Regions from separate parts of the Homo sapiens genome. Here region 2 is linked to region 1. Evidence: fine-mapped expression QTL. Tissue or cell type: cerebral cortex. Region 1 holds a variant in brackets; the other region holds the start of a gene. All regions are shown on one strand. Distances are between the middles of the regions.

The links. PIP is the estimated chance that this variant, and not a neighbour inherited with it, causes the effect.
Region 2: ZNF185 starts here. The variant in region 1 is fine-mapped to the expression of ZNF185 in cerebral cortex (GTEx, PIP above 0.99).

The regions. Positions count from the first base shown.
Region 1 is chrX:152,942,654-152,950,754 of GRCh38, forward strand. It overlaps ZNF185 (zinc finger protein 185 with LIM domain), which reads left to right. Exons shown (of 25, transcript NM_001395254.1): 18 at 2,614-2,811. Among named protein-coding and RNA genes, the nearest start is that of PNMA5, 47 kb to the right of the region's middle. The variant T/C (reference allele first, on the strand shown) is at 4,386.
Region 2 is chrX:152,894,421-152,902,521 of GRCh38, forward strand. It overlaps ZNF185 (zinc finger protein 185 with LIM domain), which reads left to right and starts at 3,647. Exons shown (of 25, transcript NM_001395254.1): 1 at 3,647-3,818. RefSeq lists enhancers at 2,899-3,399, 7,268-7,790.

The DNA of each region.
Region 1 (8,101 bases):
CATCAAATTTTCCATCTAGAACATGCTGTTTTCCTCATTATGTTGCAAGCATGGGCTTCTCGTTTATATTTTTTCTGCATGAGGATCAGGTGAAGTTTAGGCACCACATTTCCTCACCACTGGCAACCGTTGTTGGCCAGTGGAGGCAGTACAAGGGTGGAAGTGTCAGCTGGGTGCAGTGGCTCATACCCACCTGTAATCCTATACTTTGAGAGGCCGAGGCGGGAAGACCACTTGAGTTCCGGGGATTGAGATCAGCGTGGGCAACGTAGTGAGACCTCATCTCTACAAATATTATCTATATCTATATATGTATATGTATATGTATATCATATATATGATGTATATCTCATATATATATGTTTTTGAAACAATGTTTCACTTCTGTCGCCCCAGACTGGAGTGCAATGGGGTGATCTCGGCTTACTGCAACCTCTACCTCCTGGGCTCAAGTGATTCTCCTGCCTTAACCTCCCAAGTAGCTGGGACTACAGGCACACACCACTGCACCTGGCTTATTTTTGTAGAGAGGAGTTTTTGCCATGTTGCGCAGGCTGGTCTCAAACTCCTGACCTCAACTGATCCACCCACTTCTGCCTGCCAAAGTACTGAAATTACAGGCGTGAACCACTACGCCGGGACTACAATTTCCGTTTTTTAAAAGAATGGAAGTGTGTAGATTATGGTTGTGTTAGGAGTTGACAGTGGCTGTATTAGGCTACTGGATCTTTGGTCCAATTACACTCAGAAGGAAAGGCTTCAGAGAAATTAATCCAAAATCCAAAATCCCGTTGGTCACCATCCCCTATGTTACCTTGCCTATCTCTAACCACTTGACTTCCAGGAAGTTCATGAGGAGCTCGGACAGGATAGCTGGGAAGTAATTCCCCTGGATGTTACATTGTCCAGCAGAGCTTCCTGTGAGTGTTTGCCTAAGATTTCCTTTTTATGACCCACATAGGTCATATGTCCTAAAATCACAGTGGCCCTGCCACAGGCCTAGGAAAGAAGAAGCCTTGTTCATCCATTTGTCCCTGTGTCACAATAGAGCCCAAATTTCTCTTTGTGGATAATCCTGGCTCTATCCACAGACTTGGTGAGGGCAACCTCTACTAGTGTATTTCTACAGAGGACGTGGGACAGGACGGGACTCTGATTAAATCCATAGTAAAGCTAACTCAGGGCTACCACAGTAGGGAGACAAGCTCTTCAGGCCTTGTATGTTTGTCTTTGGCTCAAGCAAGCATGTCACTGACAGAGATTGAATGGGTGTGTCAGGGCACCCTGCTGGCAACCCTGGGACTGGTGTTACCTGTGCAGACCACTTTTGGATCTGCATGGGCTGCAGCAGACCCTAAGGGTGGAAGCAGCACAGAGAAGCACAGGCCCAGTGGGATGGTTCCCCACAGTTACTGTGTGGCGTCACACTCACTTGCCTGCAGTTCTGCCTGGTGCAGCTGGAGGTGGCAATTAGCTTGTTGTGCCTGCTGGAGAATTTTAGTTCCCTTGACCTCCACCTGAGGCTGAAGAATCATGTTGCTTTCAGGGCATACTTTCCAAAAAGTGTGGCCTCTGTTGGCCTTGTTATTCCAGCTTGAAGGCAGGAAGCCTGCCTAGACAAAGTTAACTCCTATATACAAAGAGTCCCAGGGTAGTTTGTAGCGTGTTCTTGTCTCGGGGTAGCCCCCACCAGCTATTGAAGGTAGGCTGGTGATGTTGGGAAGGTTATATTCAGAGTGAGCTAGGATCGAGGTGATGGCGAAGTAGATTTTCATTCTGAAATGCTGGGCTCACTCTCTTAGTAGCCCAACTTGGTGTTTGCCCCTGGCCTAGTAGACTCTGGAAGCAGTACCTTGCACCTCGGTGTGGGGCTGGTGATGGGAGGGGTGTGGAAGTGGAGGATCAGCTAGCAGCCTCTTTCCCACGGTACCCAGATTGGAGGGTGCAGTGCAATCATGGGGTGAGGCCAGGGAGGACCCCTGAAGAGCTCGATGCCTGAGACATCTGGGGGAAGCCCTGTCCTTCTTGCTGGATTCAGGGGTGGCAAAAGCCAAAAATTGGAGGGCCAGGTGCAATGGCACATGCCTGTAATCCCTGCACTTTGGGAGGCCAAGGCAGGAGGATCGCTTGAGACCAGCCTGGGCAACATGGTGAAACCTTGTCTCTACAGAAAAAAAAAAAAATACAAAAATTAGCTGGGCGTGGTAGTGTAGACCTGTAGTCTCTGCTACTCAGAAGGCTGAGACAGGAGGATGGCTTGAGCCCAGGAGGCAGAGGTTGCAGTGAGCCGAGATGATGCCACTGCACTCCAGCCTGGGCGACAGAGTGAGACCCTGCCTCCAAACAACAACAATAAAAACATCGGAGGCTTCGGCTTCATCTATTACACATGGAGGCCTGTTCAGTGAGAAGGGAGCAGCGATGCTGGGCTCCTGCCAAGGAGGAGACTGTCTGCTCCCTGGAATTGGGGCTGTGCCTGGCTCCTTTCTGCCCCGCTTTCAGGGATATGAGTCCCTCCAAGTCCACAGGAGGTGACAGCCAGCTTGCGTCCTGGGGCTGAGGCAGGGTTAGTTTCAGAGCACTTTTTTCATAAGGGTGCTTATTCTTCTTCAGGGCCTTGGCTGATTATGAGGGGAAGGATGTGGCCACCAGGGTCGGAGAGGCCTGGCAGGAGAGGCCTGGAGCTCCAAGAGGTGGCCAAGGAGACCCAGCTGTACCCGCTCAGCAACCTGCAGATCCCAGCACCCCAGAGCGGCAGAGCAGCCCCAGCGGATCTGAGCAACTTGTCAGACGAGAGAGTTGTGGCAGCAGGTAAGGGCTGAGCTGCAGTGGGCTCTGCCTCTGGAGCCCATGTTTTTGTTGAGGTCTGCGACCCACATGGGAACCACTTCCCCACACCCTGTGCCAATACCCGACACATTGCACACCCAGGCTCCTGTTCTGTGAGTGGGTCATGGTGATTCCCTGGTCCTAGAGCAGTGTCATCAGGCTTCTTGTGGCTCAAGGAGCTGGGAGGGGACTGTGATAGGAGGATGTGTCTGTCCCCAGGTGTGAGAAGCCCTGGCTAATTCCCAATGCATGGGGCAGGAAGGAAGGCTGTCTCTCAGAGTACAGGTGCTCTACAGGTGGGGGTCCTGGGCAGAGTGAGGGCTATTTGTGTGGGTAAAATGCCATTGTCAGAGAAGGACAGAGTGTGAAAGAGCAAAAAAACAGGAGGGTAAAAGTGCAAAAGTGACAGAGTGAAGCAGAGAGAGAGAGGCCAGAGGGAGAGAAAGGGAGCATGTGTGAGCAGGCATGAGAGAGTGACACAGGATGTGACTGGCCATGTGTTGGTGTGTGCCACTGTGCATGAGCAAGAGGACAAACGTGCCTGTTACTGGAGCTGACCATGTGGCATTGGTGTGAGAGTTTCAAGTCAGGCTCTCTTGAAGGCATCTTGCCTGCCAGCGCAAACACTGCATGTCCTTGCAGCTCTGGACACGTCAACAGGCCAGTGATTCCAGGGGTGCAAAGCGAACAGTTTCTTACACAAGACAGAAATGTAGAAGGAGAGAGCTAAGACTCATATTGCCCCGAGAGAGGAGCTAGTGGAATCCAGCAGGGCATCTGCTGTGGGGAGCAGGTGGAGCCTGGGGTTCCTTTTGCAGGGATGAAAGAAACACAGTCATCTGCCTTCTTTGTTCTGGGGCTTCTTGTACCACAGAGGTTCCATAATTATTAATAGTTAGGTTATTTTTAGGGCCTAGCTCAACTGTTAGATAACAAGTTTTACCTTCTAAGAATATCTAGCCCATCTTTGATTCCTTGGCTCCAGGCCCTGGAGGGTCCCAGTCCAAAAACAGAGTGAACAACTTTGGACTTGCTGTCACATTGTGTGGCTTCTAGAACTAGTCAGTGTTCCATGCAGAAGGGGTATAAAAAGTGAGGCTTGTGGATGAAGGAGGAGGCGAGTGGTTCTGGGTTTTGTTTTCGTTTTGCGGGGGAGTGTCAGGAAAGGCTTTCTTTACAGGGAGAGTGATGTTGGAGCTGGGTTTGGAAGGCTGAGGGAGATTTTGCCAGATGTGCCAGACGTGCTTGGGAAGGCATTCCGAGTGGAGGCTCACAAAGTGTATAGGGAACATCCAGTCAGGTAGCCATCACAAAGGAGGGTTAATCCAGCCTGGCTTGGCAGGAAGCACCAAGTAGGGGCTGGGCAGGCACCTGCTCCTAGGCTGAGGAGTGTGACCCACATCCTGAGGGCCTTGGGAGCCACCGATGGTTTTCCTGCAGGAGAGTGCCACAGCCAGACTCGAGTCCAAAGAAGATCCCTCCATTGCCCTGTGGAGGACCAGGCCAGGGGAGTATACGACGAGACAAGGCAGGAGGCCATATTGGAGACTGTTTGC[T/C]TACACCAGGGGCAAGGTGATGAGGCTGCAAGTATTTTTGAATTATTAAAGGTAAAAGCGGGCTTGGCGTGGTGGCTCACACCTGTCATCCCAGCACTTTGGGAGGCCGAGGTGGCAGTATCGCTTGAGCCCAGGAGTTTGAGACTAGCCTGGGGAACACAGCAAGACCCCATTTCTACAAAAAATTTAAAAACATTAGCCAGGTGTGGTGGCACATGCCTGTAGTACCAGCTACTTGGGAGGCTGAGGTGGGAGGATTGTTTGAGCCTTGCACGTCGAGGATACAGGGAGCCATGTTCCTGCCACTGTACTCCAGCCTGGGTAACAAAACAAGATCCTGTCTCCAAAATAAAAATAAAAAAAATAAAGATAACGGTGAGGGAAAAGTGGTAGCCAAGGTTGCTCCCCAGATTTCAGGGCTAGGCAATTGGATGGGTGGTGACAGGAACTAGCTGAGGGTAAGGAGTTTGGGGGCAGGCCCGCTGAGAGATGCACAGAGATGAGAAGGTCACTGGGCCATGCCGAATGAGAAGTGCCTGTAGGGGCTCCAGCCAGTGATGTCCAGTAGGCTACTGAGTAAACAAATGTGGAGTTGAGCAAAGATCTGACCTGGGGCTAGAGAGCTGGGAGTTGTCAGCTCATAGGAAGTCACTAAAGAGAATGCATGAGGTTGCCTGGAGAATGCCTTTGGAAGGCAGTGTGTACAAAGCATGTATTCTCGGCTTTTCTCTGCAGACTTCCAGGGACAGTTGTCCAGCCAGGCCCTTGGCTGGGTGGGTGAGTCCACGTGGTTCAGGGATGCTGAGGGAAGCTGCTTCATCAGCTGACATTTCTCTCCATTTTCTGCTCTTCTTTTGTCTCAAAAAGAAAAAAAGAGGGGATATTAATTATTGATCCCCTAAAACCCTAGCTGAATATATAAAATGAAAAGAAGTAAAAATATGAGAGAAGCAAAGGCAGATGGACCATAATTTTGGAAAATAATTCCAAAAGGTCTTAAGGAGGAAGAGGAGCTACAGAGAGGTATTGAGAAGGAAAATTTTGGATAAATGGAAGAATCAGGAAAGACTACCGTCATGGAAACCAAGCCACGCTGAGCTAACTTTCCAGTGCTCTGTAGATGCTGAAATAGGCCCATCAGATTTGGCTATGTAGAACTCATGACTGCCTTGAGGGGAGTAGGTTGGGGCAGTGGGAAAGGCTGTAGTTGGATTATAATGGATTGAGGAGGGAGCGGAGGATAAGCAGGTGCAGTTGATGGGGTACACACTCTGAAACTGGCTGTGACGTGATGGATGTGGGAGGGGTGAGCAGATAATTACAGCTACAAGATAATGGGGAAGGTTTCCTATAGGTGAAAGCAACGTGTGCATGTTAGGTAAAGGCTGGGCAGAGGGTGCCTACGTGACCAGTCCCCGATAAAATCCTTGGACTCTGAGTCTCTCATGAATTGCCCTGGTCGACAGCATTTCACACTTGTTGTCACAACTCACTGCTGAGGGGAACTGAGTGAATCCTGTGTGACCCACTGGGAGAGGACTCTGGAAGCTTGTGCCCGGGTTCCCTCAGAAATTTGCCTTGTGTGCTTTTCCCTTTGCTGATTTTGCTTCGTATCTTTTCACTATAATAAACCATAGCCTTGAGTGTGATGATGTGATGTGTCCTGTGAGTTCTTCTTGTGAATCACCAAGCCTAGGGATGGTCTTGGGGACCCCTGACACAGATGGGCAGGATCAGAACTTTATGCCATAACAAGGACTTTAGATTTTCTTTCGAGGGCAAAGAGGAGCCAGGAAGGTTTGAAGCAGGGGAGTGATATGGCGAGAGTATTGCTTTGCAATGGGATCTCCAGTGGCAGTGAGAAGAGTGACTGAAGTGGGCAGAGTGGAGCAGGGAGAAGAGGAAGTGCTTACAGCATCCTCCATGTAAGAAATGATGGGGCCTGGACTAGGGGACTAGCTGTGGAGATGGAGACAGAACTGTAAAATAAGTAGAAGAGATCCCAAATTGGATGACAGGTAAGACTTGGGAGAGCAGTGACGGAGAGGGAAGTGACAATTTAGAAAGCCACATTTCTGGTCGAGTGAGTGGAGTATGTGACCCCTCCTGGCTTAGGTGGTGGCCAAAGTATCTCTAACCTGCCTCTATACTGCCTGCAACTGACTGAGCAAATGCCTGGTCCGTGGAGATCCCAAGCTGACAAGGGCACCTGAGGCAAGCCTCTGGCTTTCAGGTGGAGGCCCTACCTAGGCTGGCCTGGCTGGATTGCCCTGGCACACTGCTGTTTTGCTGAGGCAGACAGCAGCACTCTGCAAGTGCTCTTCTCCTGTTCCTCTTAGTGGTCTAAATCCTGTAGCATGCTGGGGTGCGACTGTAGACAAATCCCCTTTCCGGGCCCCCTGGGGTTCTCTATTTGCAGTCTTTGGGTCTGGTCACTGGCATGGCATCTCAGTAGGCTAGGTTCATCAGGAAGGGTCAACTATGTCATGGCACCTGATGGGCAGCATTTAGAGTCTGTGGGCCAGGGGCTTAAGGGCTGCTTACTGCTAATAGTTCTAAGTAGCAAGCATTCCCTCAGCCCTAGTCTGGGCACACGCCAGGAAGAAAGCCACTAGATGTGCTCTCCTAGTGGATAACTAGCCTGGAGTTCCAAGAAGGGCAGAGACAGGCAGAGTGAGAGCCTTCAGAGATGTAGGCAACGATAGTAGCAGAACTTCGAGGGAGAGTAGATGGAAAAATTAAAAAAAATCCTTGTCATTATTTTTAAATGTCTGAATTGACCAGATTAGAATCTTTGAGAGTCTAGACACTAGGGAGATCTCATGGGTGGGCCAGTTATTATATCATATGGAGGGAGAGTACGTATGACCCAGCACGAGAGGACCAGAGGACAGTCAGTGCTAAGGGTAAAACCTTAGGCCATGGGAGATTGAGTTTTTCATCAGTTGGCAAGTTTTCACTTTAATACTCCACTGTTTCCATCATTTCAGACGACTGGGGATGATAAGGACAATGTAATTTGGGGGATAAAGGAAGAACTCATTATATTTCTTGGATGACTTTACTGGGGAAATGGATTCCTTAGTCATTTGAAAGAAGCGGTAGAATTCCACATGTGGGGAATACTTGTTCTAACAAAAGCTTAATAACATTAGTGGCAATGATCCTTTTATATAAGGGAAAGCTTCAAGCCAGTGAGAAAAACATAAATAAACTAGTAAGAACATATTTATAACCATGAGATTTGGGTGCAGAATAAAATCAAATTGGCAGTTCAGGAAAGGTCCTAAACATCTGTATATTAACAATATTCCATCAGTGAGCAATGTGAATTTCCCATAATTGAAATGATGATTGATAACCTTGTATTGTTCTTATCTAATATAAGGCAAAGCAGCACTGGGGCTTTGATAAAGAGCAATATCTCATGTACACTGAGGACACTGAAACCCCGCTAGGAATTCTATGGAATTTCTAAAATATTTATATTAAGGACATTTTACCCATTATAGACTAATTTAGGGAAGGTTCTGCATTTTTTTTTTGATTTGACAATGTTTCCAATGCAATTTATACAATATTAAATAAGACTAATTAGTTTTTGCACCTTTCTTGTTACAAGGTGAAAGAACTAATCCTTTGAGATTTTCCAGAAGGTCCCTGGCAAATCCCAAAGCCAGTTTTAGGTATAAAATATATTTAAGTTTTGATTGTGG
Region 2 (8,101 bases), 48 kb before region 1:
AGAGTCACCCAGCAAGTGTAAACCGGTTGAAGAGCTTAAGAGGATGAGGTGGCAGGGCGGGCCCCGGGAAGGAGGGGATTAGGGATCAAGCAGGAGCCCAGCCCTCCCCGCACATGAACCTGAGCACCCCAGCTTCTCTCCAGCTGGGCAGGGGCTCCATCCAGAGCAGCTGGAACCCCAGGTTCTAAGCCCAGCTCTGCCTCAGACTAGCTGTGTAATCCTGGCAACATCTTGTCCCTCTGTGGGCCTCTGTTTTCCCATTTGTACAACTGAAGTGTTGAGGTTGCCTGCCTGTCTTCAGTCCCCTCTAGCTGAGGACACTGCCTGGGGGAGCTTTGCGGCCTGACAGCTTTCAGGGCCCAACCCCTCTTTCTCCCCCTCTAGCCTGGTAACTCTTTTTGTTTTCTGTATTTTTTGTAGAGACGGGGTCTCACCATATCGCTCAGGCTGGTCTTGAACTCCTGAGCTCAAGCGGTCTTCTCTCCTTGGCCTCCCAAAATGCTGGGATTACAGGCGTGAGCCACTGTGCCCACCTCCTAGCCTGGGAACTCTGGGGCTAGATCACCTTGCTTGAGTTCTCTTCCCAGCCCTGGAGATCAGAATGGGGCCTCCCCTGGAGCTGAGGAGTGCTGCTGGCCAGTTCTTTCCCAGCAGCCACCTGCCGTGCTACCCATCTCATTGCTTAGATGCAGCCTCCCAGAGACGCTGCCTCCACGGCCTGCTTGTGAGCTATGGCTTCTCCAGCACAGGGCTCACCACCTGCTACTCCCTGCCTCTACCTTTCAGCCTCTTGCCTGCCCAGACAGCCCAGCCTGGCCCCACCCTGAAGCCCCTACCTCTCACTTAGAGCCTTGCTGAGGGCCTGCTTGTTGGTGGGAAGAGACTGTCCAGTCCCCTGGAGGTGGCACTGCTGCCTAAGCTGGAGGGACTTCAGGAGAACTCTGCCAGAGCCAGGGGGTGGGAGCTGGCCTGTCTTGGAGCTGCGGATGGGTGGAAAAGTGCAAGAGATGTGAATAGGAAAGGATAGGGCCAAGCTCAGGCCAGGTAGGGACAGAGCCCAGCCTGGAGGCAGGCAGCAGCCACCACAGCCTTGGCCTAGAACTTGAGGGAGGTCTAAGGGAAGGTTCATGAAGGAGATAATGTTACTGCTGAGAGAAAGTGGAGGCCACCTGGTGTCCCTGGGGAGGAAATGTCATTCCAAACAAAGGGAGCATCTTGTGCAGCGTCCTGGTGGTATTTGAGCACTTGGTCTATCTGGGTACATGTCATTTGGGCATGTCTGGTGCTTGAAGAGGCTGAAGAAGCCAGCAGGTGCCTGAAGCCTGGCTGAGGTGACTAGAGGTGCCCTGGCAGGCGTGGAAGTGGAAGACTGTTGGGGCAATGGACAGGTGGGCAGGGCAGGGCAGGGCAGTTACCATTCAAGTCAAACCCGTTTGCAGGCAAGATCAGCTGCAGGGCCTGGCAGCCTGGCAGGGAGGGAGGGGTTCAGGGAAGGCTGATCTCTTTGGCTGGAGCAGTCGTGACAGATCGGGCCTGGGCAGAGACTGAGTCACCTGGGACATGGGAAGAGCTTGAGGCCCTGGGGCGGCCCAGCCTGGGGCAGTCCTCACTTGCTGGCCGTGCCGTTGGACACCACATTTGCTCATGCTCTCCAGCTGGGCCCCCCACCCCTGACTCAGGGCTCTTGAACAAGTTTGCCTTTTCCCTCTTCCTTGCCCTACATCTCACCCATCATGATGTCTTCTACCTTCTACCCTTTCAAACTAGGGGCTCTTGAAGAGGACTGGGACCCAGACAAAGAGTATGACACAGCCTAAGTCATACAGTAAACATGTTTAGGAGGTAAGATGCCAAGCCAAATCCATGGCCACCAGTAGCCACAGTGGAGGAGGGGAGGTGTTAGTTGCTGGCCACCAGACAGGGGCATACAATATTGGAAGCAGAAAAATGCTTGTTGGCAAGAGACGGACATGAACAGAAGTGACTTTATATACAACCCCCTAAGCACACACAGGGTCGCCTTCTCCCTATCTCATGAACCCCAAGAAGAAAAGGATGAGGACAGCTTCCACAGCCTCACTCACCCATCCATCACTTCCTTCTGCAAATTCTTCGGATGCCCTGTGCTGGTCTCCGTGACCCAGTGATGAATCAGAAGGGGCCCTGCCCTCCCAGAGCTCAGGATCTAGAACAATAGAGGGTGACAGCCACTATGCTGGATTGATGTCATCTGAGGGAACTAAGGGGTGCACAGAAGGAAGTGATCAGCTCGACTGGGTGGCAGGCAGGGGAGGCTTTCCGGACACTGGGTGGAGGCTTGAAGAATGACTAAGAGCTCACTAGCCCGACGGGGATGAAGAGCATTTTAGGGAGTCCGAGGAGCAGGAGCAAACACCCCAAGGTGAGCGCCATGTGATGTATTCAGAAGGCAATGGAAAAAGGCCAGTGTGGCTGTAATGTATTGAACAAAGGGAAGAGTGGCTGGACCTGCAGGGATAGGTCGTCTCAAGGAGTCTGGCTTTTACCCTGAGAGCAATGGGAAGCCATGGAGGAGTTGCAAGCAGGAGAGCACCTGATCATATTGACACACGTGAACTTTTAACCTGACCTCCGTGTAGAGACTGAGGGAAAGGAAGGCAAGACCAGAGGCAGGGGGACACCAGCAAGGAGGCTGGTCTTCGGGGCCAGGTCTGGACTAGGGTGGTGGCAGCAGGCACAGGGAGAAGTGGGTGGACTGGAGGGCCATGGAAACACCACATTGGCAGGCCTTGATGAAGGAGAAGCAGCTGGTCCATTCTTTTGAGCCTACCACCCTGGTAGGCCAACTCCTGGCCAAGTCCATGCCATTTCTTGGGCTGGCTTAATTGTCTCCCTGTTTGGGAGGCCGTGGGGTGAGGGGTCTTTCCTCCATGCTCTCTCCATCCTTAGCCCCAGCCCAGGGCCTTGCACACAATAAAGCACTCGGTGAGCACCAACGCGTGACACAGGTACATCAAACCGCATTGGCTCTGGGAGTCTGGCTGTATCTCGTCGCCCAGCCTGGGAGATAGCCCCGTTTGCTGTGCCTTGTGAGCCCCGGGTCCGTCCCAGGATGGCCTTCCACGATGAGCGGCTCCCTCACTCTTCTCCTCCTTTCCTGCCTGCAGGACTTCCTGGATGATCTCAGCCGCCAGCCCCCCGCCCCCCTCCCCGCCCCTGTCTGGGATCTCCATCTGTAAAATGGATCTAGGAACGGTAGTTCTCGACTGAATTAACCCGACAGCATCTGTGGAAGTCGTTGGCCCTGTGCCGGGGCCAGATCGCGCAACTAGGAGCGGGGGCCCTTCACGTGGCGGAGGCTTCCCGGCCTGGGGGCCACGGGCCCGGAGGAATTTGCCTGGAAGTTTTCCATCACGGCAGAGCCTTCTGGAGCTCGCCCCGTGCTCGACAAGGGGAGCCCCAGACTTGATTTCTCCAGCAGCCCCGCGGGGCGGGGCCGAGAAGGGGCGGGCGGGCGGAGGACGCTGGCGGGAGAATGTGCGGAATGTGCCAGGCGCCTCTACCTACCCCAGGAGGGGCAGAGGAAGGGGCCGGCCGAGGGGAGGGGCGAGGGGCGAGGCTCCGGGCGGCCGGAGAAAACCTGTTTGTTCTCCTGCGGGCGGAGCCCAGTCCGCGCCTCCTCGCCTCCCTGCGCGCTCCCCGCTGTGCACCGCGCCCCGCGCCCCGCGCCTGCCTCCCCGGCCCGGCCCGGCCCGGCCGGGCGCCGTCCACCCGAGGGAGCCCGCGCCCTGCGACTGCCCGACCCTCCACCCGCCCCACGAGCCGGGCACCGGTGCCAGGTAGGGCTGTCGAGTCGCCATTGGATGCGGCCCTGCTTGGAGGCAGTGGGGGGCACCCAGTCCGTGCCCAGCTGGGGACAAGTCAGGGCCTCAGTTTCCCCATCCATAACCCTTACCAGCTCCAAGCATCTCTCTTCGGGTTCCCCCCGGGAGTCAGTGGATTTCTGGTTTTCGCTGTGAGTGAAAAGACTGACAGGCAGAGGAGGCCAGCGTCCCCTACAGAGGCAAGTGTCCCCCTTGCCAGCCTGATCCCTCTGTCTTGCCCTTTAGGAAAGACACGGTTTAATTGTTAGTAAACGGCGAGGGGCCAGGATGCTCTGAGAGTTGACTGCAGGCCTTTAAGAATCAGGGAATCTCATATCCCTCCGTCCCCCTGTGCCCATTTTATAGATGAGGAAACTGAGACCCAGAGGCTGGCTCACCCAGAGGATCCCCTCAATCGCCCTGGGGCCTGTGAGGTGCATGTGCTGGGTACAGGGCAATCTTGGGGAGGGCCATGAGGATGGTGGCTGCTCACACTCAGACAGAAGGCGCCGAATCAGGTGTCACTGGGTGTTATCGACAGGATCGGCACTGCACCAGCTCTGTGGCTGGATTGTTTTGATGGGGGCAGAGGGAGCCAAGAGTCTGTCCTCTTTGGAAAGGCAGAGGGATACCTTGCCTTACAAAAAGGCCGAAAGCTCAGGTGCTCCTGCCTGATCTGCCACTTCTGAGCTGGGGACACCTGGGTACTCTGTCGGTTTAAGGGGGTGACACGTCAAGCTGCCTCCCACCCAGGGCTGCTGGGGACTCAGATAAAGTAGGTGGTGGGTGTGTCCCGGCTTTGGGACATCTGAGGCATGGTAGGAGTTGTGTTCTTGCTGAGCCGTCGGCACGAAGCCTTGGCATCATGGGAGGCCCCAAAGCTGTGAGCCCCGAGAGAGGGCCTCTCACACCCCATCCAGCAGTGCTTGAGGCTTCAGTACCTGGACTAAGTCCTGCCTTGGTCTCATGGCCCTTCAGACTTCTGGCTGTCGTACCTGGCTGGGGGCGGGAGGCAGGGGTGCACAGGTTGATAGGCCTGAACAGAGCTGCAGAGGTCCTGCCTTCCCAGGGCCTCCGCTCCTCATCTGAAAAACAAGGGGCAGCTCAGAGGCCAGCAAGTGGCCAAGACACAGATGCACAGATGAGGGGCCAGCCTTCTGGCAGGCCTTGGTGCCTCCGCTGTTCCCCTCATCGCTCCCAGGCCACTTCAGGATGGGAAGGAACAGATCCCTCTCACCTGCCCCTCCTTCCAGCAATTCCCAGCCCCTGGCTGGATGCTGTGCATTCAGCCGTGTGGAGCTGATGGAAGGCACTCAGTGCAGGGCCAGACACGCAGCAGGTGCTCAAGATCTGTTCATTTCCATCCTCTGGACACTCATGACTCAAGCAACAGAGGTGGCCCAGGACCACTTAGGATGTTGCAGCTCCGAGTAGCATGAAAACATTAGGGGTTCCTCAGTCCTGGAGCAGCGAGGCACCCCTGGCTGGGAAGATCAGGGAAGGCTTCCTGGAGGCGAAGGGCTTGGAAGCAGGAGGAGGAGCTCGGCAGCCACCAGGTCAAGGCCCGCACGTCCTTTGGAGCTGCTGGAGTCTAACCTCCCCGTTACTCCTGAAAGATCATAAACCACTTCTTGCTGAGCTCCTGCATATGGGGGCCCACAGAGAAATCAGCTCCATGCCTTGCCCTGAGGAGTGACAGAGAGGCCATCTGTCAGTAAGAAGTTGCCATCTGAATCCAAATGGCAGCAGTGCTTGTCCACCTCACTTCCTGCTCAGCTCAAGTCCAGACTCCAGAAAAAGCCTTTCCCACGTGAGGCCAGTGATGCCAGGGGCAGCCAGCGCCTCAGCTCAGCCTCCCTCAGCCTGACTTGTGCTCCTTGTCTTCCTGCCCAGTGTCCCCAAGGCCTCCTGAGATCTGGCAGGGCAGGGACTCTGGGTCCCTAGCACTGGGCCCAGGACCTGGCCACGATAGGCATCGGCACTTGTTCCCTGAACTGTCTTCAGTTGCATGCCAAGCAAACTCCCCCAATTCTGGCTCGGTGCATTCTGGAAGCCAGAAGCCTGCCTTCCTCCTTCCCTACTCAAGCTTCCACAGGTGACTGCCCCCTTTGGTGCGGGTTTTGCTTCAAGCCACAACTTATAAGGTGCCAGGTCACATGTAACACAAGCTTTCCTTCTGTTGCTGAGCCCTGAGGCTGCCCCCACTGCCAGTCCCTGGCGGCATGGGACAGGACCAGTGCCAGAGAGGAGAGCTGCTCTCCAGTGCGGCAACCCCTTGCAGTCCGGGCCTTTGGGCTCTCATGTTTAGGGTCAGTCCAGGGACTTTGCATTCGTTACCACTGTGCCCATAGTGAACCGGCTGATGCCAAGACAAGGGCAGTGCCATCAGGGGACCAGTCCCTGAGAGATGCTCAGGAGAGGTTGCCATCATTGCTTCCAAAGGCCGGGAAGAGGAGGAGGGGCTGAACTGTCCCACACCTGGTCAGGTGTGTGGCAGGTGAGGGTGGCACCTTCATAGCCTAGTGGTTAAGAGAATGGCTCAGAGGTCAGCCTGGGTTCAAACCCCAGCTCAGCCACCATCCAGTTGTGCAAAGTTCGGCCCTTCATGCAACCCCTTGAGGCCTCTGTTTTCTCACCAGTACTGAAGGGTGGCTAAAGCCAGGAGCACCTGCTGCACTGGGTGCCTGCAAGTGCTAGGTTCCTGGCACAGAGGTGCTCTGTCACGGAAGGTAGCTGAGCCAGGACTATGGTGCCCTCCTTCAGGGCTGTGGTGGCAAGGAGTGAAGTGGGACTAGGTGGAGAGAGAGATGCTGACTGGGATGTGGGCCCCTACCTGAGGAAAACAGTTTAGAAATTACTGCTGATGATGCAAACAGTATCTACCCACATTTAAAGTGACTCACTAAAGAACACTTAATTCTTAGGGTGATTTCTCATGCCTACTAAAGTCTGACTCGCTTTCTTTTTTGTTTTCACTTTTTTTTTTTTTTTTTGTTAGAGCTGGGGTCTCGCCTTGTCACCCAGGCTGGTGTACAGTGGCTAGTCACAGGCATGATCATAGCACACCGCAGCCTCCAACTCCTGGGCTCAAGCGATCCTCGTGCCTCAGCCTCCCGAGTAGCTGGCACTACAGGCGAGTGCCACCATGCCAGCACTGTTGTTACTTTTTATCTTTAATTTTTTTTTTTTTTACCTTGAATTGATTTAAAACTCATAGAAAAGTTGTACGAATCGTGCAGAGAACTCCTGAAGCCTTATCTGAATTCCCGCTATTAACATTTTGCCACATTTCTCATTAGCTTTCTTCACTTGTAGCCTTTGGATGGGTCAGAGGGTGGGCAGGGCTGTTGTCAGTTCATTTTTCCAAAGGGAAACTGAGGCACAGAGAGGGACTTGCTCAAGTGCCATTGATTAGAAACTGAGCCAGATTAACTTCTCTCAGGGACACATATTGATGCATTTGGCAGGTGTTTTCTTGATCACTTTCTGTGTTGGGCGCTGGGGCACAGAAATGACTGAGAACTGACAGCAAAGTGGGAGGGACAGGTCTGAGTGGAGAAGAGACTGGAAAAGGAAAAGACAAGAGGCCCTGTGGGTATCACTCTCAATGTCGGAGGTGGAATGCAGGAAGGAATCTGCAGCTTAAGCGTGTCTCCCAGGGAATTTGACTGCCGAAGGGTCCCAGAGGCCACTTTCAGAAACACGGTCTAGGCTTTTCCTGTTGGGAGTGTGCTCATTTCTCACCTCAAAAGGGAGCTAGGAACTGGGAGGGTGCCTGCCTGGAGCAGGGAGGTGGGTCCAGGCCAGCCAAGAGAGCAATTCCTCACCCACTCATTAACGCCCGCTGAGCCATCCCTCTTCCCGCAGAGCTGCCCTTGGGGCTGCTGCTGCTGAGATGGCGGCAGAGCTCTGAAGCCACGCCCTGGGTCAGAGAGGAGACATAGCCTCTGGGGCCAGTGGGCAAGCCCTAGGCTGCTGGTGGTTGCTGGCGGTGGTCCCTGGCCTTGGCCCCATCTGTAGGCCCAGCTCGGGCACCCAGTCCGGGCCCCTTGGTCTAGTCCCTGTGATCTTTGGCTCAGCACGCCACTTTGTGATGACTAGGTCAGTTTCCCAGAGAGCTTGATGTGGCGAAGAGTTGCTATGGAGAGAGCAAGCACAAGGATTTTAATCACAAGAACCGGCATCCCTGGTGAAAATGCTTACATCAGGCAGTGCCTGCTTTAAACTGAAATAAAAATAAAAATAAAAATAAAACCCAA